Homo sapiens: one gene and its partners. The protein of the gene in region 1 purifies or fractionates together with the protein of each later gene. This does not show direct contact. Each region holds a gene or a part of one and is shown in the gene's direction. Other genes may lie near its edges.

Region 1 (3,500 bases):
ATTTGACACTTCACCCTGCCTGGCTGTCACCACTCCTCTTCCCCTGCCTTCTGCTGGGGCTCAGACAGCTTCAGGCCTCGAGCCTGAGAAAGTGCCTGCCCAGAATTGGGCCCAGGGGTTGAATGGTGGAATCTACATTGCGAGGGGACCTGCAGAATCATCCTGTCCACTGCCCATCTCGAGCGCCACCAGGCCTCAGCCATCTCAGACATGGGATGGGGCTGGAGTCTCTTCGTTCAGCAAGTATTTGTGAGGCATGTAGCCAGGCACTGAGGGCAGACAGCAGTGAATGACCAGACAGACCTCTGCCCTTCAGGAGCTTTTAGTTTATTGTCTGGGGATGCAGTAAAATAGACTCATAAAGGAAATGGCACATTGGAGGCTGGTAAGTGCTAAAGAGAAAAAACAGGGAAGGGAAATGGAAGAGTCAGTTGGGAGAGGGGGAGTTTGTTATCTTGTGCAGGGTGGCTACAGAGACCTCACTGAGAAGGTGATATCTGAGGAGAGATGAGGGGGTGGCACCACAGTCGGGGCAAGCTGGGCAGAGGGGACAGCAGGTGCAAGGGCAGGGATGCAGGGCTGTGCCTGGAGAGTCAGAGGCGGCGTGGAGGCTGGCGTGGCTGGAGTGTGGTGAGGGCAGAGAGTTGCAGGAGATAAAGTCAGAGGGTCAGGAGGAGGTTAGCTCTAGGAGAGGTCTGGAGCTGGTGAGGAGGGGGATTTTTTCCTCAGAGTAAGATGGGCTCTTGCAGGGTTGGAGCCTGGGGCGGCATGATTTGACTTTTTAACACCACTGGTCGTTGGCCATCCATTCCAGCTTTTCCCTCAGCGGCTAGTCAGGAAGTGCTGCCTGGTTGCCCTCTGCAGCCATTGGAGCTGTTTCAGCCAATCAGTACATCCCCACCAAGGATGCTCTGAGCACTGTCCTAGGCAGTGTGGGGTGTGAGGTTGGGAAGGAAATAAAAAAGCACAGGACACAGTCTTTACTGGTAAGGAAACCTACTGATCAGCTGGGGAGGCAGAACTTACACTCACAAGAAATAATGAGGGAATAATACCAGACAGTATTTAAAACCGAGTGCTAAACTGTGTGATTTAGACTATAAATGTTATCAGAACTGTGAGCTCTGTGTGGGAGTTATATAGGGAACGCTTCCTCAGGGGGGCGCGGCTGATTTAGGCTTGGAAAATGGAGTAGATTCGACTCTGCAGTGGGAAGGATTCTCGCACGGAGAACTTGGAGCTGGCAGGGTGAGAGGAGAGAAGGGTGGTGCTGCTGGAGGGGAGGTCACTGAGTGGGAGTAAGGCAGCCCACGTGGCAACGTGCAAGGGCAGGGTCTTCTGTCTCTGAGCAGTCCCTGCCTCCCACCTGGGTTTCCAATGCCCCCTGTACTCTTTCCAGAGACACGGAAAGCCACCCTTTCCAGAAGGAAATCCATTATCCAGTGTCCTTGCCCTCTCCTGCCCGAGACCAGATGATCTCTGATCTTGGAAGTCCTCTGGCTTCATGGAGTCCCATTTCCAGCTCCGGCCGTTGTCCCAGGTCTGCATGCTGGGAATCTCGGCCTCTTAGTTCACTGGTGTCTGGAGCCATGTTCTCTGGAATTCCCTTAGGCTCCATGTATCTACCCAGGCTGCAGCAGCTTCTCTTCTCCCTTCCTTTCACTGCCTGGGTGGGCTCCTGTTTGGTAGGTTACTCCTATAACATTCCTGGTCGTTTCAGATATTGTGAACTGGAAATAAAATTGCACCAAAATGAGCAAACTTCCACCCCCATGAGGGGTGAGTGTGTCCTCTCCCTGGATCTTGGGGATATGAACTCACCTCTGAAGTATAGAGAGAGATCACCAGAGTGGAGTAGACTAGGATCCATTGGTAGTGCCCTCACCCACCCAAGACATGGGGGGCGATGCTCTCCTCCCTGCCCCCAGCCCCCATGAGAAAGGGGGGCACACCCGCTGTACCCCAGCACAACCCCCTGGAAGACGCAGAGGCTGACCCTGGGGCTTTTGTCCTTATGGCTTACAATCCAGAGGAAGTGGAATCAGTTGGCATTGGGTCAGAATTCACAGTCCCTAGCCACCTGCCCTTGGGCATCTTAACCTTTCCGAGCCTCAGTTTCCTCATCTGTAAATCTGAGTTAATAACATCCACTTCCTAGGGTTGTTAATAATAATAAGAGCTAACGTTATTGAGTGCTTATGAGGTGCCAGAAGCTTCACTGCATTTGTCTCATTTCGTCCACATAACGCTGTGAAGTAGATATTATTTTCCCCCATTTTGCAGTTGAGGAAACTAAAGCCTGGAGGCCATGCACAGCCAGCAAGTGGCAGAGCCAGAATTCAGCCCCCAAATCTTTCTGACTCCAGAGCCCTGATTCTCAACTACCACATTAAATGAGCTAATCTGTGTAAAGTACCTGCTACAAAGTAGAAGCTCAATAAATGTTAGTTCCTTTTCTCAATTTCCCCAGGGCCACTCCTCTAGAGAATAGGGTTCTCCTACCTCATCACATTTCTTTTCCGGGATCCCCTGGGACATATGATAGAAGTGGGAATGGGAATGAGCTGCCAGTTTATACCGAGGGAAGAAAATAAGGCTAAGAGAGGTGAGTAATTTGCATAAAATCATAAAACACCGGGGCTGTGATTAATGCCCAGGGCACCTTGCTCATAGAAGTTATTGAGCCCCACTGGGTCCCAAGCAGTTGGCAGAGGGTGTCTTGCAGAGATGAGAACAGAGGTTATGCTGTATGGAAGAATGAGAGGCCATCATCTCCCCCAGGGTCAAGAAAGAGCCTGTCTCACCTGCAGAGGCGAGAGTTGATCATTATGGGCCTGGAAAGTTGCTAGCAGAAGCAGTACAAAGCTCAGAAAGGTCTAAGATCCTATGTTTTCTGAGCTTAGCTACTGTATCTAGAGTTTGTTCTAAACAATCTGGGACTGTTCATGAATCTTGGAAGAGGACAGTGTTGAAGGTCAAAGTGTGGAAAGACAAGATGCTATCTCACCTTTATGACTGTTAGATTGGCATGCCTTTTGCAACAGGTAAAGTGTGCATGGGTGGGTACACACACACACACACACACACACACACACACACGGCTCCATGTAACCTTGCATGGAAATAAAAATGAGCAGACAACTGCAGGGTCATCTGAATTTCAGGGTATATAGGGAATGGAGGTGAAGGAGCTGAGACAGGGCCATTCCCCTAAAACAGTCCTCATTCTTTCCTCCCCGGAGACCTCTTTTCTGGTGGGCATAGAGACCCATCTCTCTGCACAGCCCACAAAACAGCCTAAGCCTGCCAACATTCACCTCTGATGGGCAGACCCAGAGTTCCTCTGCATATCCCCCATGGAGAAAAGGAGAAGAGCTTAGGTCATAGTGCATCAGAACTGATGGCAACAGGAAGCGCTCTGGTTCTGTGGCTTTCAAACATTTACAGAAGTTAATCCATTTTTCAATGTATGGTAGGCAGAATAATGGGCCCCCTAAGAT
Region 2 (3,500 bases), on another chromosome or scaffold:
TGATTAATTCCTCTTACATGTGCTTACTAAAGGGGTTCTTTCTAATAAAGTGCTGTATACCTGCATTTGCTTTCAGTTGCTGTTGGTGAAGGCAAACATGTTTTTCTTTTCTTTTAATATTAACATAAAATTTACAAGCCTACTCTTGTAACTATAGCAACATAAAGATGATTTTGTTGACCACATGGTCTTATATTTTATGGAACTCAAGGCATGATTACTATTTACTAAATACACTTAATTTAGAAAGAAAACAATGCTAATTAGATGTGATATTGGAAGGTTGAGCTATTCATAACTTTTTTTGCTTTATTCTTTATGGAATGCCATGATATCTTTCCTGTGTATTACTAGTAGGATGCAGGAATCCAAATGTATGCAGGTGCAGAGTTCTGCAAATGCACATTTTTCTTTAATAATGCTGGAGAGTAAGTGAAAAGCTAAAATATTGCTAGTTATATCCAAGAATTAGCAGAATATTATGTTAAAATTTTAGGAATGACTAATAGTGCACATGACAATTATTGTGGTTACCACTGGTGTAAACTGTTCTGCAGTTAGAGAAGTGTGATTAATGTAACTTTACAATTCTAAAACTGGATTATGGTAGAGGGTGGTGAGTGAACAGAATTTATATAATAATTTGATAATAGGTGACCTGAAATGCATGTTACATGTTTGAAACTTACCTACTTAATGTCTTTTTAGAAAATTCTGAAAAAAATGTGATTTTCAAAATTACAGAATTAAATATATCTATCCATGTGTCTCTATTGATCTAGCTACTATCTATGTATGTCTCACATTTAATGCAGCAAATAACATTATTTCAAGTTCTCTCTGTTGTTTGGAGGAAACACTTTAATTTCAGTTACATATTTTTGGGCTTACACCTATCCTGAATTTAATAAACTTTAACAATGCAAATGATATGACAAATATTCAAGAATGCTAATTTAAAAGTTATAATGAAAATTAAATAAGTAGAATTTTGTACCCAGTTCAATGCCATTTGAACTTATCTTCTTATGTATTAAAGTGCAATTTCTTTACCACTACTGTCGGTTCACTGTTTTATTTTTTTAGGATTGTCAAAAGCATTTGGCATCCGTAAAGAATAAATAAATGTCTCCTGATACAGTCAAACAATGTAGACATTAACTGTACTTGTAACAAGCTTTTCAAAACTCTTAAAATTCACTGAATGAAGAAGAATTAATGAAGAATCAAAAAATGAACATTACCCGTTAGGAGAACACTGATGTGATTGTAGTAACAAAGGTTTTGAGTTTATCTTTCATCACTACAATTGGAAGTGTGACCCTAAGGAGGTAATCTGGACTCTCTGTACCTCTGTCAGGTAAATAAATTGGCTTAGCAATTTGAAAGTCTTTCAAGCTATGTGACTAATATACTGAATATAACTGAAGTTGCATTTTGCAAATTCTCAGATTATACTGTGGCAGTTTGAGAATCCTGTAGGAGTTAGGGGCAGCCATCTTGTTTGAAAGAGGGCTAAGGAAATTGTCCTGAAGTCAGGTCAGCAGTGCCTGGACACTCTTGTTACGTAGATTGAGATTGAATGTTTATTTGGAGTGTTTTTGAAGGAGCAGGATGGAGATTATGGAAGGGAAGAGGTGGACTCAAGTTTCTCTAAATGACCCTATGCTGCTGCCACTGAGAGCATATTACATGTATAATTATTTTTGGATTTTATTACTGTACCCAATATCAGAAGGATATGAGAAGAAAATAAGTAAAAGGGGATGCTTAGTGTCTTTGGTCTTCCTTTTTCCCACTCTGAAATCTCTATGTATGCTATTTTGCAGCATCACATTTGGATAAATATGCACAATTTAAATAAATATATATTATTCCTTACATACATGTAGACTGTAAGAGCTAGAAAGAACCATAGAAAAAATTATTTGAACCCTTGCATTTTAAAGAGGAAATTGAGAACTTCAAAAATAAAAGATATCAAAGTTGGTTGAATATCCCAGTTTCACAGAGAGGTTTTCCATCCTTGTTCAGTACCATCTCACATGCTATATTGCCAAGTAAATACACAGACAATAATTTTTACACCTCTAACTACATTATCAATAAAATAGTTTCATTGATCTTGTAGGATACAATACATTAACTTTAAAAAAATGTAATAACAAAACTTCCAATCATGGAAAATGAATACAAAGAAGGAATATATGCAATGTTAATTTTAAATGCTTGCTTTTCTTAAAGAAAACCAATAATTTATTTTTCATTATAATTCATGTGATATAACTGATGAAATTGGAAACTTTTTTTTTCTTCTAGGAAAATCAATATGACCAATTGTTTTCTATATGTGATAGGAATATTTGAGTTGCAGCAAGTAGATATGTATCTCTATGAAATGTACATTTTAAATCACTGAAGTCTGGGAGATCATGCTATACTTATTTTTTTAAATTGTAAAATATAGCCAATATAGCTGATTAATTGTAGAGACTTCAATTGCATTTTATTTTGTGTTTGCATGTGAGCATTTATGTATCTGTGTGTGTTTAAAAACATCTGTTCTCTTCAAAATAGGACTTAGTGAAAATGGTGTACTCAAAAGTTTAAAAGTGTATGTATAATAATCAAACAGTCAAAAAGAAATGACTTAGACTAGTATGTAACATAACAAATTGCTCTCTAATTAGTTCTTAAATCAAAGTTCAACAATACACCATATTACCAAAGCGTTGCCTTTAATAATGAGTCCATGTATTTTCTAAATACTATATTATAATAAGTAAATATTTTAAATTTGAAATAACCATGAAGCAAAAATATTTTACCTCTATATTCTCAAATACATTTACTTACATTAGATGCTAAAAAGGAAGAGAATAATTTCATATTCGATTATATACATTTCACATGAGATCAGAGATAGCTTAAATTAAATGTGTGTCTTTTCTACTGGGATGCCTTGTATGAATCATTGCATATATAATGCTATCTGATTTACTCTGTAAGGGAACAATTAAAGTATTATGATTAAATACAGAATTCATGAACTTTTGAAATAATTCATTTTTAAGTTTGCAAATATTTACGTAATCAGCTACAGAAGTCTCAATGCATTCATCATATTAGAACTTCTGTGAATTATAGATTTTACAAACTGTCCAAAGTTATAGTTCTCAAATGTAGTTTGTGTTAAAAAGGGGACTCCTTCAGCAGCTACACGAACAGAGAACAAAGCCAGGCAAGCATTGTGTTCACATGCATTTTTTACTACTACCCACATGTAACATGACATACGTATCATAGGAATACTTCCATTCCCTTGTCTGGTTAAATAGTCCTTGCTCAGTTAAGATAAAGGCCTAGATATAGCTTCTTTATACCACATAGAAAATAACCCAAACCTCATATTTTATCTCAAGTTCCAGGAAAGGTTAATTTAGAGCACAGAAACAGAAAAAAAAAAAAAGAAAATAAAGAAGAAGTAATGGAGTGTTTCC
Region 3 (3,500 bases), on another chromosome or scaffold:
TCTGGGATCCACCTCTAAGAATACGTCTCCAATGAGAAACAGTTTTGCACATTCATTATCTCCCACCTTGGAACATAGTAGCTTGTTCAGTGGTTCTTACTCCAGCCTTTCTCCAAACCCTCTTAATTCTAGAGCAGTTGAAGACATCTCTTCATCGAGGACTAACCCCTACAGTTATGCAATGAGTACTGAAGAAGCCAGATTTCTTACCTACCATATGTGGCCATTAACTTTTTTGTCACCATCAGAATTGGCAAGAGCTGGTTTTTATTATATAGGACCTGGAGATAGGGTAGCCTGCTTTGCCTGTGGTGGGAAGCTCAGTAACTGGGAACCAAAGGATGATGCTATGTCAGAACACCGGAGGCATTTTCCCAACTGTCCATTTTTGGAAAATTCTCTAGAAACTCTGAGGTTTAGCATTTCAAATCTGAGCATGCAGACACATGCAGCTCGAATGAGAACATTTATGTACTGGCCATCTAGTGTTCCAGTTCAGCCTGAGCAGCTTGCAAGTGCTGGTTTTTATTATGTGGGTAAGAAGCAAATAACTATACATTTTATCATTTTATTTTAATTTACATATTAGAACATACGTGTTTTCAATATTTAGTCTTTTTTTTCCTGAAGGTCGCAATGATGATGTCAAATGCTTTTGTTGTGATGGTGGCTTGAGGTGTTGGGAATCTGGAGATGATCCATGGGTAGAACATGCCAAGTGGTTTCCAAGGTAATTGTTTTGAAAAAGGTATTTGTACAAAAAACTCTGTGCTTAAAAGAAGTAGGCATGCCTACATGATTTTGTTTACCTTTAAATTATAACAAAGCCTCTTTTATGCCATTGGGGAATTATCCTTCTAAAAGATCACATTTTAACTTTAATTATTTTGTTGAAAAATATTCTGCAGTCTTCTGTGTACTTTTGTAAGTCAGTTACAAGTATGACCGTACATTTTATTTATTTCCCATTTCTTTTAAAGAGTACTTAAGGATTACAAAGACATATAAAATAGATTAAAAAGACGTTAGAAAAAGGTAAGAACAGGAAAACAAGAAGGGACATAGAATGGATGCAGGAATAAGTCAAATGTAAAAGTCCATGTATTAAGAGCATATCTTAGATGGGCGTGGTGGCTCACACCTGTAATCCCAGCACTTTGGGAGGCCGAGATAGGTGGATCACCTGAGGTCAGGAGTTTGAGACCAGCCTGACCAACATGGTGAAACCCCGTATGTACTAAAAATACAAAAACTAGCTGGGCGTGGTGGCGCGTGGCCGTAGTCCCAGCTTCTCGGGAGGCTGAGACAGGAGAATCGCTTGAGCTCAGGAGGCGGAGGCTGCAGTGAGCCAGGATTGTGCCACTGAACTCCAGCCTGGGTAACAGAGCAAGACTCTGTCTCAAAAAAAAAAAAAAAAAAAAAAAGAAAAAAGCATATCTGACTGCCCATTTTAATTGTAATTGTAAATTATTTTTTCTGTACAATTTTTTTTTGTCATTTACCTCCTTTTAGCCACTTTGTCTCTAGCAGTGTCTTTTTTTATTATAGCCTAGAAATAATTTAGGGGCAGTGTTATTAGTAGAAATAGAATTAAATTGTCTTTGTAATTGAGTAGCTATGTGAACTTGGACGTTGTTTGTAAAATGAGGAGGGGTTGGCCTAGATAATTTTTTAAAATAGTGATAAAATAGGCATAACATTTACCATCTTAACCATTTTTTAAGTGTATAGTTGTGTGTCATTAAGTACATTCTTAACCGTTCTGCGATTATACCGCTATCCATCTCCAGAACCTTTGCATCTTCCCAAACTGAAACTGTCTACCCATCAAGTACTAATTCACCATTATCCCATTCCCCAACATCCTGGCAACCACCATTGTCTTTCTCTTTTTTTTTTTTTTTGTTTTGTTTTTTTTGAGACGGAGTCTCACTCTGTCACCCAGGCTGGAGAGCAGTGGCGCGATCTCGGCTCACTGTAAGCTCCACCTCCCGGGTTCACGCCATTCTCCTGCCTCAGCCTCCCGAGTAGCTGGGACTACAGGCGCCCGCTGCCACGCCCGGCTAATTTTTTGTACTTTTTAGTAGAGATGGGATTTCACCATGTTAGACAGGATGGTCTCGATCTCCTGACCTCGTGATCCACCCACCTCAGCCTCCCAAAGTGCTGGGATTACAGGCGTGAGCCACCGCGTCCAGCCCTTGTTTGTTTTTTTGAGGTGGAGTCTCACTCTGTCATCCAGGCTGGAGTGCAGTGACACGATCTTGGCTCACTGCAACCTCCACCTCCCAGGTTCAAGCGATTCTCCTGCCTCAGCCTCCTGAGTAGCTGGGATTATAGGTGCCTGCCACCATGCCTGGTTAATTTTTTTGTATTTTTAGTAGAGACAGGGTTTTTAGTAGAGACAGGGTTTCACCATGTTGGCCAGGCTGGTCTTGAACTCCTGAGCTCAAGTGATCTGCTCACCTTTGCCTCCGAAAGTGCTGGGATTACAGGCATGAGCCACTGCCCCCTGCCGCACCATTCTATTTCTGTCTCTATGAATTTGACTACTCTAGGCATCATATATAAGTGGAATCATACATCACAGATTATGTTTTTACCTGTGAGTGTCTTTCACAATAATGAAGAATCTCTTGAACCCCTTCAGGAAATTTAAAAAGTTTTCGTCATTTTGTATGATATATGATGAAAAAGAAACTTGAAGTAACAAATACTTTATTATGGATCAGTACATTGTTAAAAGTTGTATTTTAAAGTTATTAATATTAATAATATATCAAGATAAATTTTGACTTTTTTACACTGAAAAATGACTAAATTATTAATTATGTTTAAAATTAAAAAGCATGTTTTATCAGACTTTTAAATGACTTAATTATGTTGGGCTCTATGGGATTATATACATTAATTTGAAATTTAATCCATGTTGTGGTATCAAAGACAAAAACAGCTTCCAAATTCCAGTGTTGGAACTGCTACATTTTGTACCTTATAAAACAAAATCAAAATCTTTATTTTTGTAACTTGTGTTTTGTTTTAAATGATTAAGGGAGAAGATGTAGGGGCGTGTTTTGTAAATGCTTCTCTGAAAACAACACATTTCTTTTTTCCTTTTTTTTATTTTTTTGAGACAGTGTCTCATTCCATCACCTATCACTGCTGGAGTGCAGTGGCAAGATGGCAGTTCACTGCAACCTCCACCTCCTGGGTTCAAGCCTCAGCCCCCCGAGTAGCTGGAATTATAGGCACACGCCACCACACTCAGTAGTTTTTGTATTTTTAGTAGAGACGCAGTTTCGCTATGTTGGCCAGTCTAGTCTCAAACTTCTGACCTCAAGTGATCTGCCTGCCTTGGCCTCCCAAAGTGCTGGGCTTACAGGCATGAGCCACTGAGCCCAGCCCACATTTCAACTGGGAATAATCTTTAATCTCAGTAAATCCATCACCTTATGTAGTAACTTTCTTTTTTTTTTTTTTTTTTTTTTTTGGTGAGAACT
Region 4 (3,040 bases), on another chromosome or scaffold:
GGTTCTAAATGGTTGGAGTATCTTATACAAGGAAAATTCTATTCTTAGCTGATTTCTTACAATTACTTCATTGGTTAGCTTCATTTAAAGCTCTTAAAAATAGTGGCTCTTCTGTTAGAATAATCCTATAATCTTTGGTTTTTAAAATATTAACATTCCTCTGAATTTTTACTTATTCTTTCTTTTATTACAGATAACAAAATAATGAACAATCAAGATGCCATAGAAAAGGCTGTTAGTAGAGGCCAATGTTTATATAAAATATCAAGTTATACCAGCTATCCCATGCATGATTTCTACAGGTAACTTAGAAATATATTTGAGTCCTGAAAAGAGGAAGACTGATTTCCTTTTTAAATTAGCAATGCCTAGCATTTTTGGCTATTTGCCGGTGTTGAGACTATAACTAACTGAAAATTTTATCATCAATCTACTTGAAGATCGTGTTTAAGACTGTAACTGTGGGTAGGCGTGGTGGCTTATGCCTGTAATCCTAGCACTTTGGGAGGCTGAAGTGGGAGGATCACTGGAGCCCAGGAGTTCTAAACCAGCCTGGGCAACATAGGGAGACCCTGTCTCTACAAAACAAAACAAAGACCATAACTATGGAAAAACCTAATGCTACAGTAACTGATGTCATTCATGTAACTCATGTTGTGTAATGTTTTCCTAGAAATTTCAAGGTAAAGATGTCGGGGTTAAGTGTTTGATATATCCCAGTCACTGTGACAGTTTTGACTCTTCACGCCTCCAAAAATTGTTTTCAGCCCAGAAACATTTGAGAGGCTTTTAAAGTGGAAAGAACTGCCTTTATACAATTTACAAATCATTTCTCTTCCCTCCGAAGACACAGATGACAGGAAAATCACTTACTCCATTAAAGTTCCTTTTCAGAATTAATCTGGGCTGGAGCCACAAAGAATTTTGTTTTGGTCCTCTTAAAGCCAAAGGTCATAGTAATATATAAACAGAATGGAATGTTTTGCATTAATGACATGTTTGAGAAAAGTAATTTAAGCTTTTGCTTTTTAGATGTCATACTTGTAACACCACAGATCGAAATGCCATATGTGTGAACTGCATTAAGAAGTGCCATCAGGGACATGATGTAGAGTTTATTAGACATGATAGGTATGTAGCACACTTGCTTGATATATTACCCAATTACTTTCCCCCTCACTTTTCTAATATTTGGGTTTCATTTTGCTTTAGGTTTTTCTGTGACTGTGGTGCTGGAACACTGTCTAATCCTTGTACATTAGCTGGTGAGCCTACACATGATACAGATACACTATATGACTCTGCTCCACCTATAGAATCTAATACATTGCAGCACAACTGAATTCCTTCCCTAAAGAAAAAGTCCTGCCATTGTAACATCATAACTTAAAACACTTTTTTGGAAGAAGATTTAAAATATTTGCCCATGCTACAGGAAGAGACTGTATTAAAAATGGATACACAAGGTCAGTTGACACTATGAAGCTCAAGCTACCAAAAAGAAAGTGGCAATATATTGACTCAGGATCTCAAAGCTGGGTGTTTTAGCATTACTGTGTAAAGACTTGAAGGGACAGAAGTGAAGAAAATAAGCTGCAATTTTGTACAGATACCAACTTCTGAAAAGCTGGTGTTTTTACAACTAGCATTGAATGCAGTCCAATTTGCAGTAGTAATCTTCAATAGACAAGCAGCTTTGTTGCTGCCTTTATGGACATGGGTACCAATTGCTTTTGTAATATGGTAAAAATGTGAGCTAGCACTTCTGCGTTCCTTTTGATTTTTTTTTTTTAACATGTATTCAGATTGAGAAATATGATTTTAATGCTTTAATCTCATGTAGTTTGTTTTTAATTTCAAGCAAAATCTTACTGTACTTGAATGTGCCCTGTTTTGTTAGCACACCTAGACTTGCTGTAACTGTACTCATGTCCCAGTATGTACGTTCTTTCTATGAAAGAGAAAACACTAATCTTAAATTATATCCAGCAATGTTTCTGGTATCCTTTAAGAAAAGTTAAGACTATTATTTCCTTCCCTTCCCTGTGCAGCATTCAAAATCACCCCTAGAAAAAGTGAGTGTTTTAATGAGACTTCCTAGGAAGGGATGCACTGTAAAACAAAAGTATTCTTGTAACTCAGTTTTGTGAAAGGTAAAAAACTACTATGTTTTAAGTACACTTTAGAAAGTCTCTTCAAAACAAACAGTCCTGTATTTGAACTCTGTTCATAGTTTTTTTTTGAACAGTTTAGACAAAACTGCTGGAAATTAAACCAATTTCCTGCATTAAGCTGAGACAAGTATATATACAGCCCTATACAGTTTCATAGCTTTTCCTCCCCCATTTATGTGTATTGGTGACAGTGGGTATAAAACAGCCTGAAAGTGTATGCATGTACCATAACATCTAGACTTAATATATTGTGGAGTATTCAATAACCATTATGTAGAAGGTAGATAAGAATTAAAAGGGTTTAATTTCCTAGAAAGAAAATGGAAAAATGGTCATTTTTAAAAAATAAAGTTTATTAGATCATAATGTTGTCTGAATTTACCACCTTTGTCAGAAGTCAACTCAAAGCTTCCAATGTAGTCAGTCTATAATTCCTTAATCAAAGTCAGCAATTTATGGACAGCTTCAGCATCTACAGTTGACCTTTCACTAGCCAGGCAAACTTCCCTTAAAATTAAAAAAAAAAAAAAAAAAGTTTTTTTGTTTTTTCATAGTGCATCATCCCTTCCCCTTTTACTGTTTCTTTGAAACTTAAGGTCAGTTAGTTATAATTCCATTATAGTTAGTTAGTTACCGAAATAATCGTAGTGACTGATTCATCTTCTCAAATTCTCTTGCTTTTCTATGTCCCTTTTGAATAACTTCCTCTGGGAGATTAGCAAGCCTTGCTGCATTAAAGCCATAGCTTTTAGGACAAGCTCCCTTAATGAATTTATAGAGGAACGTAATAGTCTCCTGGCTGGGGTCTTCACATTCATTTTCTACCATGCATGCCTTAAGAAAGAAAAATATTAGCGATACATGTG
Region 5 (3,500 bases), on another chromosome or scaffold:
CACTTGTTCTGTACTTGTAAAAGGGAAAGAAGGCCGGGCGCAGTGGCTCACGCCTGTAATCCCAGCACTTTAGATCACTTGAGGTCAGGAGTTTGAGACCAGCCCGGCCAACATGGTGAAACCCCATCTCTACTAAAAATACAAAAATTAGCTGTGCATAGTGGTTGGCACCTGTAGTCCCAGCTACTCAGGAGGCTGAGGCAAGCTAACTGCTTGAACCCAGAAGGCAGAGGTTGCAGTGAGCTGAGATCACGCCACTGCACTCCAGCCTGGGTGACAGAGTGAGTGAGACTCTGCGTTAAAAAAAAAAAAAAAAAAAAAAACTAAAAGGGAAAGGTAATAAATCTCACTTAACATCTCCCTTCGCTCCCTGGGCCTGCCTGAAAGTTACACGGGAGCAACGTGCGTGGCCACATCTCAGCTTTGCCCAACTGACTGGTGTGTCGTTGGTTTGTTCCAGCATTCGGGGATTAATAGCTCGGATGCGGAGGTGCTGACCCTGTTCAATGTGACAGAGGCCCAGAGCGGGGAGTATGTGTGTAAGGTTTCCAATTATATTGGTGAAGCTAACCAGTCTGCGTGGCTCACTGTCACCAGACCTGTGGCAAAAGGTAATGGGGAGATGGATGGGACCCTGTGCTGGGGATTTGATGTAGGCCCCAAGCTGCTGGGGCAGGCGGGGAAGCCAGTACTGGACTGTCCTTGCCACCCTACTGTATTTCTAGTGCCCAGAGCCATGGAAAAATACCCGGCCTGGGAGGCTGGTTTGGTTTGGTATTGTGTTGGTGTCTGTGGGTTCCCTCTCTGCCTTCTGTGTGTTCCTTGGCTTTGTGTGGATCCATGTGAGGACTCACGGGGACACGGTTTTGCTGTGTTACAAATGGTACTTCAGACTGAAGTTGTGAGTGAGTGGTGATTAAGAGAAGGGGCCATAGGCCAGGCACAGTGGCTCACGCCTGTCATCCCAGCACTTTGGGAGGCTGAGGTGGGAGGATCGCTTGAAGCCAGGAGTTTGAGACCAGCCTGGGCAACATAGCAAGACCCCATCTCTACAAATTAAATAAATTAGCCAAGTATGGTGGCGTGTGCCTGTAGTCCCAGCTAGTCTGAAGGCTGAGGCAGGAGGATTGCCTGAGCTTAGGTCGAGGCTGCAGTGAGCTATGTTTATGCCACTGCACCCCAGCCTGGGTTGACAGAATGGTACCCCATCTCTTAAAAAAGAGAGAGAAGGGGTTAGGCATTCCCTTGCATACTCGCATCTGCTGGCTGTGTATGCACATGTGCGTGTGTGTATGCGTGTGCATGTGTGTGTCTGCAGCCCCCGCCATCCCTCCTGTGTTCACCTTCTGGCTATCTTTACCTGAAACCAAACAGCCCCTGCCCGCCGGCCCCATTTCTCCATGCCGCTCACCGCCCGCATGCTCGGATGGGCCAGTGGCTGCCAGCATCTGGTGAAGGGTCGTAACCAGCCATCGTCTTCTCAGGTCTGCCGGAGTTCTTCCCTCAGGGTCTCACCCTCTTCCTCTAACAGGTTTTGCTGCCTGGTGGTTTTCGTTTGTTCCTTGTTGCAAAGAAGATGTCAGGGAGCATTTCTTCCTCTAGTCCCCCTTCTTTCTGTCTCCTTCCCTTGCTCTGCGTCTCTTAGAGGTCTCATGTCCTGTGCTTGTCCATTTTGCTTCCGTTGTCTCTTCTAGACTGCTGGAGTTAATACCACCGACAAAGAGATGGAGGTGCTTCACTTAAGAAATGTCTCCTTTGAGGACGCAGGGGAGTATACGTGCTTGGCGGGTAACTCTATCGGACTCTCCCATCACTCTGCATGGTTGACCGTTCTGGAAGGTACACACTGTAACTTCTCCTCTCGATGTCCTGCCCTCGCCACGGGCACGGGGGGAGCATGCATTTCCAGGCTTGGGGAGACACAGAGGCAGGAGAGCTGGAAGAATGGGCTCCTGCCTGCCTGGTGCCACATCCTGCCCCAGCTTTGAGGGCTGAATCCTCTCAGCTCAGAGAAGAGCTTCCCTAGTTTTGCAGGCGCACGGAGGCCTCCCACCCGTACACCTGCCTCTGCTCTCCCCCTGGCCATTGCAATGCATGCCCGGGATCTGGGTTTACCCTGCAGCCCGACTCCTCCAGGGCAGGCTCCTTCCGTCCTTGGGTCCAGCAGCCTCCCCCCTCCGCTGGGTACTGAGCATCTGAAAAGTCTCAGATAGGGCCCTACACCTCTTCTCCCTTCTCAAGTGCTCAGCCCAGGGGTGGGGCTTGCTGCTTGCAAAGAGCAGCCCACCCTCCTGTACTGCCATCCTATTGCCTTTGAAGAAGGAGGTCAGCCTGGACAGGTGAACTGAGTTGCCTTCAGAAAGGCCTGTCTCAGGCAGCCGCAGCAGGCTTCACGATGTCCATGTATCCTGTTTGCCTGCTGCCGTCTCTCCTCTCCCAAGAGGGGAGGTCTGCGTGTTGAGCCAGGGAGGAAGGAGCCTGCAGCCTGCTCAGGGTGGTGGCTGGTGACTGCGGGGCCAGGGCTTGCTGCTGTCTCTCGGAATGTCCTGCATGTGGGTCTGGCTGTTCCTGCTGGCACTGCCCTCTTCTCTCTCCCCTCCTTTCCCACTCTGCCCTGCTTGCCCGTCAGGGTCTCCGGATGCCCCTGCTGGAGGCAGAGAAGCGTTCTGTTTTTATCATCGTCCCTGTCTTGGTCCTGTCCGTGCTCCCCATGTGCTCCCAATCAGTTGTCTTCGTTCCTCAACATCAGGGAAAGAAAAAACAGCAACACTTCTCCCTGTCATCAGCTCTGCTGTCTCCTTGTCAGGCCTTGGGACGTTCTCTGGGCTCAGTCTAGGGTCGTGCCTCATGCCTCATGCCTCTCTGGGAAGGTTCCCAGGGGCGCCGCCTCCATGGTTGGCTGGTGGGTTTTAAAGGGGAAGGTTGGGAGGAGGCCTGTGGAAGGAGGAGGGCCGTCCACACCCGTGGGGCAAAGCGTGTTCCATGAAACCAGTGCTGTGCGTGCTGGGATGAAAGCCTCCCAGCCTCTCGTGCTGAAGGGAAAGGTGGACCGAACTGGCTTAGCTGCTGTGGCAATGGGGTGGGGGGTGAGTCCTAATCAGAAGGTGGGAGAAGAGAATAACAAAATGGAACTCCGCCCCCTGCCGCCACATTTCCTTAAGTTTTAGGAGTTGGGGCCTATGAGTAGAATTTGAAAGAACTACCAAAAAAGCTTATTTTTGGAAATTAAGTCAGCTTTGCCTGTGGTTTGGCTAGGAATAAATATTTACCTGTGTGCCCCTACAGAGATGACACAGACCCAAAGTGGGACATTGAGCAAGGCACAGGCTGGTTCCCCTCCTGTCCTCTGTCCTCATTCTGTGAGTGCCACCATCACCAGGTACTGTGGCCTGCAGAAATAAACGAGGCACCAACCCTGCCCTCAGGGACCCCGTGTCTTCTTAGGGACAGAGGACTCAGAAACATCTGTGTCCCCGCATGTTAAGTGCATGCACACAGTG
Region 6 (3,500 bases), on another chromosome or scaffold:
AGTGCTCAGTTACAGTTCCTTTTGCTTTTAGTCTTACACTCCCTCCTCATTTCCACATTACTTAGGTACTTCCCTCCCCACCCCTCTTGGCGGAGTTGTGTCCTATATGTGTAATACAATTGGTTTCTTCTGCCTCAGCCTGCATTCCATAGGGCCTCATCAGTTATTTTTAAAATCGCATATATTAAGGTTTGCTCTTTGTGCTTTAAAGCTCAGTGGATTTTGACAGAGGCATCCACAACTACAGTACTGTACAGAACAGTTGCACTGCCCCAAGAAATCCCTGTGCTTCACCTTCTAACTCTCCACAACCACTGGTCTCGTCTCCATCTCGGAGGTTTTTCCCTTTCCAGAATGTCATATCATTGGGTTCATACAGTCTGTAGCCTTTTCATACTGGCTTCTTTTGTCTAGCAATATCCATTGTATCCATTGAGTGGATTGAAAGTTCATTCCTTTTTTTTTTTTTTTTTTTTTTTTTGAGACGGAGTCTTGCTCTGTCGCCCAGGCTGGAGTGCAGTGGTGCGATCTCGGCTCACTGCAAGCTCCGCCTCCTGGGTTCACGCCATTCTCTTGCCTCAGCCTCCCGAGTAACTGGGACTACAGGCGCCTGCCACCACGCCCAGCTAATTTTTTTGTATTTTTAGTAGAGACTGGGTTTCACTGTGTTAGCCAGGATGGTCTCGATCTCCTGACCTTGTGATCTGTCTGCCTCAGCCTCCCGAAGTGCTGGGATTACAGGCGTGAGCCACCGCGCCCAGCCGAAAGTTCATTCCTTTTTCTTTTAATGGTATTTATCATGTGGCTATACTGGTAAGTCGTTTAAGTTTCTTAATCTGTAGGTTCTCTCTTCATTCCTTTCTTACAGTTTTTTGCTTCTACTTTATCTGTTGAAAAACTTGGGCCTTGTGACTTGTTGACTTCCCTATAGTCTGGATTTTGCTGTTTGCATACTCAACAGTGGAAGTTCAAAGTGTTGTGGTTTGTTTTTTTTTTGTCCTATTTCCTACAAATTGGTAGCAGGGTCTCCTATTAAGGCTTTTCCTGTATTTAGCACACAGACTTGATCACCTTGGTATTAAGCGGATGGAAGCTTAGGTAGGAAGTAAACTCAGTTTTCAAGGATTAAAATGACCCGCCTAATGGATATGTGAGTCTTTTTCTTGCCTCTTGTTTTATGTTGGCCAGTACCTGTAGCAGAGGGTGCTGAAGAGTAGAAATTGAGATAGAATTGAGTGTGAGTTTTATTATTATATGTTAGCAGCTCTGGTAAGAAACTCAGAGAATTAAGTGAGAATGGTAGATTAAAATGAGGCTTTAGGATAATGTGATTGCTCCCCATACATGTGTAATTGACAGTTGTGTGAGGTGAGCTCAATTTAAAGGAAGACTAGCCTAAGCTGGTCAGTACCAGGAGGATTTTGCCCCAGTTTGCTTCCGTCCAAGTGTGTGTCCCTCAGCACAGCATCTCTTGGGCTTCCTCATTTCCTGTTTATGATAATAGAGTACTCACCCCCATCCTTGAGGGATACATTCCAAGACCTCCGGTAGTTGTCTGAAACCACAGATAATACTGAACCCCATTTGTATTACGTGCAAACTTTTTTCCTTCATAATTTCATGGATAGATTTGTTCTTACTGTAGATCTTAGCAACCTTGTTATTTGATATTGTTTTCTTATTAAGAATTTTTACCTTTTCACGTAAAAGAAGCCCTTTATGGCTTTTCTTTGGCATATCCAAATTGCAGCATCAGTACTCTTGAGCTTTGGGGCCATATTAAGCCAAATAAAAGTGGCTTGTGTTCACTTTTATCCGTGATCACATCCGCAACAGTTGATGTGATCAGCAAGACAGCTACCAAGTGACTTAACGGGCAGGTGGCCTAGATGGCACGGAGAAGCTGGACAAAGGGATGGTCATGGGACAGAGCGGGATGTCACTCAGTTTCATCATGTTTCTCAGAACGGCGGGCAGTTTAAAGCTTATGAATTGTTTATTTCTGGCATTTCCATGTTACTATTTTCAGACTGAGGTTGACTGTGGGTAACTGAAACCACAGCAAGCGGAACTGTAGGTAAGGGAGGACTGCTGTGATATTTTATATTTCATACGTAATTTCCTTCTGGTTTTGGTAGTTGGGATACACTTTTTAGGTAGGCCTGGCAAGTAAGTCTCCTGACCTGTCCAAGGACATCACCGGCAACTGCTGGGTCCCAGCCTTGAAATGAGGTCAGTCTGAGGTCTTGCCTTTGCTGAATGAAATTACCCCTTCTGTAAATTGAAAGGTCTGGAGTCGCTGTACCCTTAGATTGATTTTGGCTCCGAGATTGAGGGGCCTGAGTCTGGAAGCTGAGGTTTTTGAGGTTGGGGAACTTAATTTGAGAAGATTATCTAATTTTGGCAAAGTCTTTAGCTTTTTAGTGCCGTATTTTTTTTTTCATATAAAGGATAGAATATTTAGGCCGGGCACGGTGGCTCATGCCTGTAATCCCAGCACTTTGGGAGGCTGAGGTGGGTGGATCACTTGAGGTCAGTAGTTCAAGACCATCCTGGCCAACATGGTGAAACCTCATCTGTACTAAAATACAAAAAGTTAGCCGAGCATGGTGGCACGCGCCCGTAGTCCCAGATACTCGGGAGGCTGAGGCAGGGGAATCACTTGAACCCGGGAGGCGGAGGTTGCAGTTAGCGGAGATTACGCCACTGCACTCCAGCCTGGTGACAGAGCAAGACTCCTTCTCAAAAAAAAAAAAAATTATACCTGTCCCTTCACTTATGTCAGTGTTTGAGTCCTTGAAAAAGTCACTGAAGAGAATGCACAAGAATTAAACTTACCTTCCTAAGATGCTCAGGTTTTAGACCAGTAGGAAGTCATGGGTAATGTGTGAAAAGTGCACTAGCTCTTAAGGTGGTGTGTCATGTTTGCACACTTTTAAAAGCTGGACTCAAAATTCAGTGTACTGTTGAGTCATCCCATAGGGTAAGTCTGGTTGACTACAAGGGCTCTGCCCCTCTTGCTCCTCCGCATCCTTCTTGGGGTGGGAGGTAGTGTGAGTGGGGAGATAAGAGGACAGGATATTCAGAGGAATATTCTTAATATCGGGACCAAATTAATGAATTTGGCAGGGTGTTTCTGTACTGCATAAGATCAACAACAATTAAATAATTGATCCTCTTCTAATTCCTGTCACATACAAATCCTAGTTATGTTTCAGGATTTGCTTGCAGTCTACTGAATCTACTTGAATTAATTTATAGGAGAAAAGGATTTAATTCAGAAATCATTGCAAGGGCTATGGAGTAGTAGATTCTAGGTTGAATTTCTAGGAAAACCCGCCAGCCTGGGGAATCCTGCCTCTGCAGGAGCCACCACACCAGAAAGTGGTGTGCTGGGCTGCTTAAACAGTGCCACCCCTCCACGGTCCATGTCAGCCTGTGGATGCCCCCACTGGGCCTCTCTCCTTAGCTTACTCACCAACCGCATCGTCTGCAAATGT
Region 7 (3,500 bases), on another chromosome or scaffold:
AGCTGCTTGTGGCCTCACCTCCCGAAGCTCACATGGGACTCCTTGGGCCCATGAAAAGGGAAACAGGACAATTTCCAGGATGGCTGCCCAGACTTCGTCAGGATCCTTTTGTGGGATGGCTCATGCATGCACACAGTTCACTCAGAGCACAGAGTGGGTCAGCCCACTACCAGGGCCCTGCCACCAGCGCCAGGTTCTTCTCTGAATGCTGTCACTCTTGGCAACATGGGCTTAAGTCCCTGTTGGTATAACTCCATTTTCTTGTGTCTTCACTTTGCAGAGGAATGTTTGCTGGGGGATTGAAGGAGATGGAACAGGAAGAGGTCCTGATCCACGGTGTGTCCTACAATGCTATGTGCCAAATCCTACATTTCATATACACCTCCGAGCTGGAGCTCAGCCTGAGCAATGTACAAGAGACACTGGTGGCTGCCTGCCAGCTTCAGGTGAGGCATGTCTCATCTAGCAAGGCAGACCCACACCCAGGTGGGGTTCCCTGAGATGCCCATGATGCCTGCCGGGCACTAGCATTGGCTTGAAGATGGGTCAGGAATGTGAGGAGACCAAGCAGTGACGAAGGCCATGAAGTGGGGAAGACTCTGGAGTTGTTCCTGGAGCTCAAGCAGAGCCGCTCTAGACACCCCAGGCCTCTGCCTTTGCCCTCTTCTCTATTGCTGGTTGTTTCCCCACTGTCTGAGTCTCCCTGTCATTGAAAGCATCCTGCACATAAGCAGGTAGGCTGACCCGAGGCTGCATGTGGACGTCCTGTGTGCTCTGGGGTCTGGCAATGGGGAGCATCCACCAGCATTGCTGCCAGGGCCCTTCCTGCCTGTCCCCTCACTGGGCCACTTCAGTCTCTTGAAAACTTATGTGTTTTGTTACTGAACTTTATCTATCTATTTGTCTGTCCATCCATCCATCCATCCATGCATGCACGCATCCATCCATCCATCCATGCATGCATGCATCCATCCATCCATCCATCCATCCATCCATCCATCCATCCATCTATCCATCCATCCATGCATGCATCCATCCATGGTGGCAGGCATCCATCCATCCATCCATCCATCCATGCATGCATCCATCCATCCATCCATCCATCCATCCATCCACCCATCCATCCATCCACTCATTCAATTTATTGGAGACAAGCTCTCTCTCTCTTGCCCAGGCTGGAGTGCAGTGGCACGATCACAGCTCACTGCAGCCTCAACCTCCTGGGCTCCAGCAATCCTTCTGCCTCAGCCTCCCAAATAGCTAGGACCTATAGGCATGTGCCACTACACCTGGCTAATTTTTAAATTATTTTTATAGAGATAGAGGCTTGCTTTGTTGCTTAGGCTAGTCTTGAACCCCTGGCCTCAAGTGATCCACCTCAGCCTTCCAAAGTGTTGCGATTACAGGTGTGAGCCACTGCGCCTGGCCTATTTTTTTTTTTTTTTTAAAGACAGGGTCTCACTCTGTTACCCAGGCTGTAATGCAATGGCATGATCATAGTTCACTGTAGCCTCCACCTCCTAGGCTCAAGTGGTCCTCCCGCCTCAGCCTTCTGAGTAGCTGGGACTAAAGATGCGTGCCATTGTGCCTAGCTGATATTATATATATATATATTTTTTTATAGGAATGGGGCCTTGTTATGTTGCCCAGGCTGGTCTCAAGCTCCTGGCCTCAGGTGATACTCCCACCTTGGCTTCCCAAAGTTCTGGGATTACAGGTGTGAGCCTCTGTACCCAACCTGTTATTGAACTTTAAGTACTTGTTTTCCTGCAGAATTCAAAAAGTTTTCTGAGGCTTTGACAGTGTGACTTATGTTTTGGATGATTATTCTCAGTGGTGTGGGTGCAGTTACACGGGACTGGGCCTGCAGGTGCCTTTGAGCTATCAGGCAGAGGCCTGATAGGAGTTGACAGTCACCTCTTCCCACATTTCTTAAAAGTGAAACAAAATGCTATGCTAAGTTCATCATTCTGACCTTTCTTCCCATGAGAGCAGGTTTGACGCAATTAAAAAAAAACAACTCAAGTCACAGGAAAACCAACCTGTTCGGGGGCATGTGGAGGTGCCACCCCATGTGACAGGGCCCTGGCAGCCTCCCTGTGCCCTGTTCTCAGATTGGTGGATAGGACCTGGATGCTGGGTGGGTTGATCTGAGATGACTGACTTGTCTCACCATACCTGCATGGTGAGTAGATGGAGTTGGCTTTTACAACAAAAGAATTTCCCCCTGTTCTTTTATTTAGAGATCTCTTCTGTCCCCACATCCCTGTCATTGTTGCTTTGGGAACCCTCATCCAATTCTCCACCCTGGCAGCAGTTAACTCCTGATTCAGCTGCCTCTGAAACATCTCCCCCAGCATGGCTCAGGTCCAGCTGTCCTATCTCCTCCTCCACACCTGCCACTCTCCCGGAGCTCCCCTGTCAGTCCCCCTGCTCTGTGTGTCCTGTGACCATCCTGCCAGTTCCCTGGGCTCAACCTCAGTGGCTCCTTGAGCCCGTCCACCTTCTTAATTCCCTGCGTCCATGTGAGGACAGGTCATCCTTCTCGGTATTGCTTGTAGCCATCTCTGTTCTGTGTTTCCATTTCCTTCCCTTTTGCCTGGCCTCCATCTGTATGTTTCTGCCATTTCTTTCTTCTCCCTGCAGTGATCACACACACTGAAACCAGATCATCTTTCTAACATCACTTTCCCTCTCTCACCAGTCAGCTTGGAGGCCTGCAGTCTCTCTCTGTTGGTTTGGCCAGTGCTCCCGACAGCCCTGGGTCATCTCCCCCAGTGCCTCAGAGGTCATCTCAGAGGCAGCAGCCTATCTTAGTTTTTTAACATATCAGGCTTCTGGGCCAGGCTTGGAGGTTCATGCCTGTAATCCCAGCACTTTTGGAGGCCAAGGTGAGAGGATTGCTTGAGGCCAGGAGTTTGAGATCAGCCTGGGCAACAAAGCGAGACCTCTACAGAAGCACTTTAAAAATAGCCGGGCATGGTGGCATGCACCTGTAGTTCCAGCTACTCGGGAGGCTGAGGTGGGAGAATCACTTGAGCCCAGGAGGTGGAGGCTTCAGTAAGCTGTGATCACCACACCACTACATGCCAGCTTATCTCAAAACAAAAAACAAACAAACAAAAAAAAACAGGCTTCTTCACAATATTGTTTTATAGCAGGTTTTACTTGGCATAACCATGTCAAGTCCATAGGCCTGTAGAATCATGTATGTTCACATAGCTAGTGACTTTTGGAGGCTTCCCCCATGTGTTGTGCCCTGCAGTAGGCCTGGGACCAGATTCTTCACGGTGTCCCCAGAGGCCTGAGTCTGATTCCCAGTAACACTGTCCTATTGGGTTACCCCAAGCAAATGCAGTCCCTTCTGTGAGCCTCGTATGGGGCTTTTGCACATCCTGAGCCCAGGCTGGTTCCTCTGTGAGATTTCACTGAACAGAAGGCCCACTGCTCTAAAAATAGGACTGAAAGGAGAGTCAGCAGGGTCCTCTCAAGGAGCTGCT

The links.
Region 2: the proteins of LRRN2 (region 1) and PTPRD purify together in Homo sapiens (affinity purification with mass spectrometry; one large-scale study listed by BioGRID and IntAct). This does not show direct contact.
Region 3: the proteins of LRRN2 (region 1) and BIRC2 purify together in Homo sapiens (co-immunoprecipitation; 3 studies listed by BioGRID and IntAct, with this or other methods). This does not show direct contact.
Region 4: the proteins of LRRN2 (region 1) and FBXO11 purify together in Homo sapiens (affinity purification with mass spectrometry; 2 studies listed by BioGRID and IntAct, with this or other methods). This does not show direct contact.
Region 5: the proteins of LRRN2 (region 1) and FGFR1 purify together in Homo sapiens (affinity purification with mass spectrometry; 2 studies listed by BioGRID and IntAct, with this or other methods). This does not show direct contact.
Region 6: the proteins of LRRN2 (region 1) and USP22 purify together in Homo sapiens (affinity purification with mass spectrometry; 2 studies listed by BioGRID and IntAct, with this or other methods). This does not show direct contact.
Region 7: the proteins of LRRN2 (region 1) and KLHL22 purify together in Homo sapiens (co-immunoprecipitation; one large-scale study listed by IntAct). This does not show direct contact.

The regions. Positions count from the first base shown.
Region 1 is NC_000001.11:204,675,739-204,679,238, reverse strand, and holds part of LRRN2 (leucine-rich repeat neuronal protein 2 precursor), read left to right. Parts: intron 1-3,500.
Region 2 is NC_000009.12:10,606,503-10,610,002, reverse strand, and holds part of PTPRD (receptor-type tyrosine-protein phosphatase delta isoform 1 precursor), read left to right. Parts: intron 1-3,500.
Region 3 is NC_000011.10:102,350,214-102,353,713, forward strand, and holds part of BIRC2 (baculoviral IAP repeat-containing protein 2), read left to right. Parts: coding exon 1-536; intron 537-630; coding exon 631-730; intron 731-3,500. UniProt on the Homo sapiens protein: Multi-functional protein which regulates not only caspases and apoptosis, but also modulates inflammatory signaling and immunity, mitogenic kinase signaling, and cell proliferation, as well as cell invasion and metastasis.
Region 4 is NC_000002.12:47,806,420-47,809,459, reverse strand, and holds the end of FBXO11 (F-box only protein 11), read left to right. Parts: intron 1-193; coding exon 194-302; intron 303-873; exon of another isoform or gene 874-937; intron 938-1,032; coding exon 1,033-1,131; coding exon of another isoform or gene 1,132-1,212; coding exon 1,213-1,342; 3' UTR 1,343-2,540; downstream 2,541-3,040. Other genes in the region: DNA mismatch repair protein Msh6, read right to left, coding at 2,600-2,681, 2,809-3,008. UniProt on the Homo sapiens protein: Substrate recognition component of a SCF (SKP1-CUL1-F-box protein) E3 ubiquitin-protein ligase complex which mediates the ubiquitination and subsequent proteasomal degradation of target proteins, such as DTL/CDT2, BCL6, SNAI1 and PRDM1/BLIMP1.
Region 5 is NC_000008.11:38,420,136-38,423,635, reverse strand, and holds part of FGFR1 (fibroblast growth factor receptor 1 isoform 1 precursor), read left to right. Parts: intron 1-1,694; coding exon 1,695-1,839; intron 1,840-3,500. UniProt on the Homo sapiens protein: Tyrosine-protein kinase that acts as a cell-surface receptor for fibroblast growth factors and plays an essential role in the regulation of embryonic development, cell proliferation, differentiation and migration.
Region 6 is NC_000017.11:21,033,012-21,036,511, reverse strand, and holds part of USP22 (ubiquitin carboxyl-terminal hydrolase 22), read left to right. Parts: intron 1-3,500. UniProt on the Homo sapiens protein: Deubiquitinase that plays a role in several cellular processes including transcriptional regulation, cell cycle progression or innate immunity.
Region 7 is NC_000022.11:20,468,296-20,471,795, reverse strand, and holds part of KLHL22 (kelch-like protein 22), read left to right. Parts: intron 1-280; coding exon 281-446; intron 447-3,500. UniProt on the Homo sapiens protein: Substrate-specific adapter of a BCR (BTB-CUL3-RBX1) E3 ubiquitin ligase complex required for chromosome alignment and localization of PLK1 at kinetochores.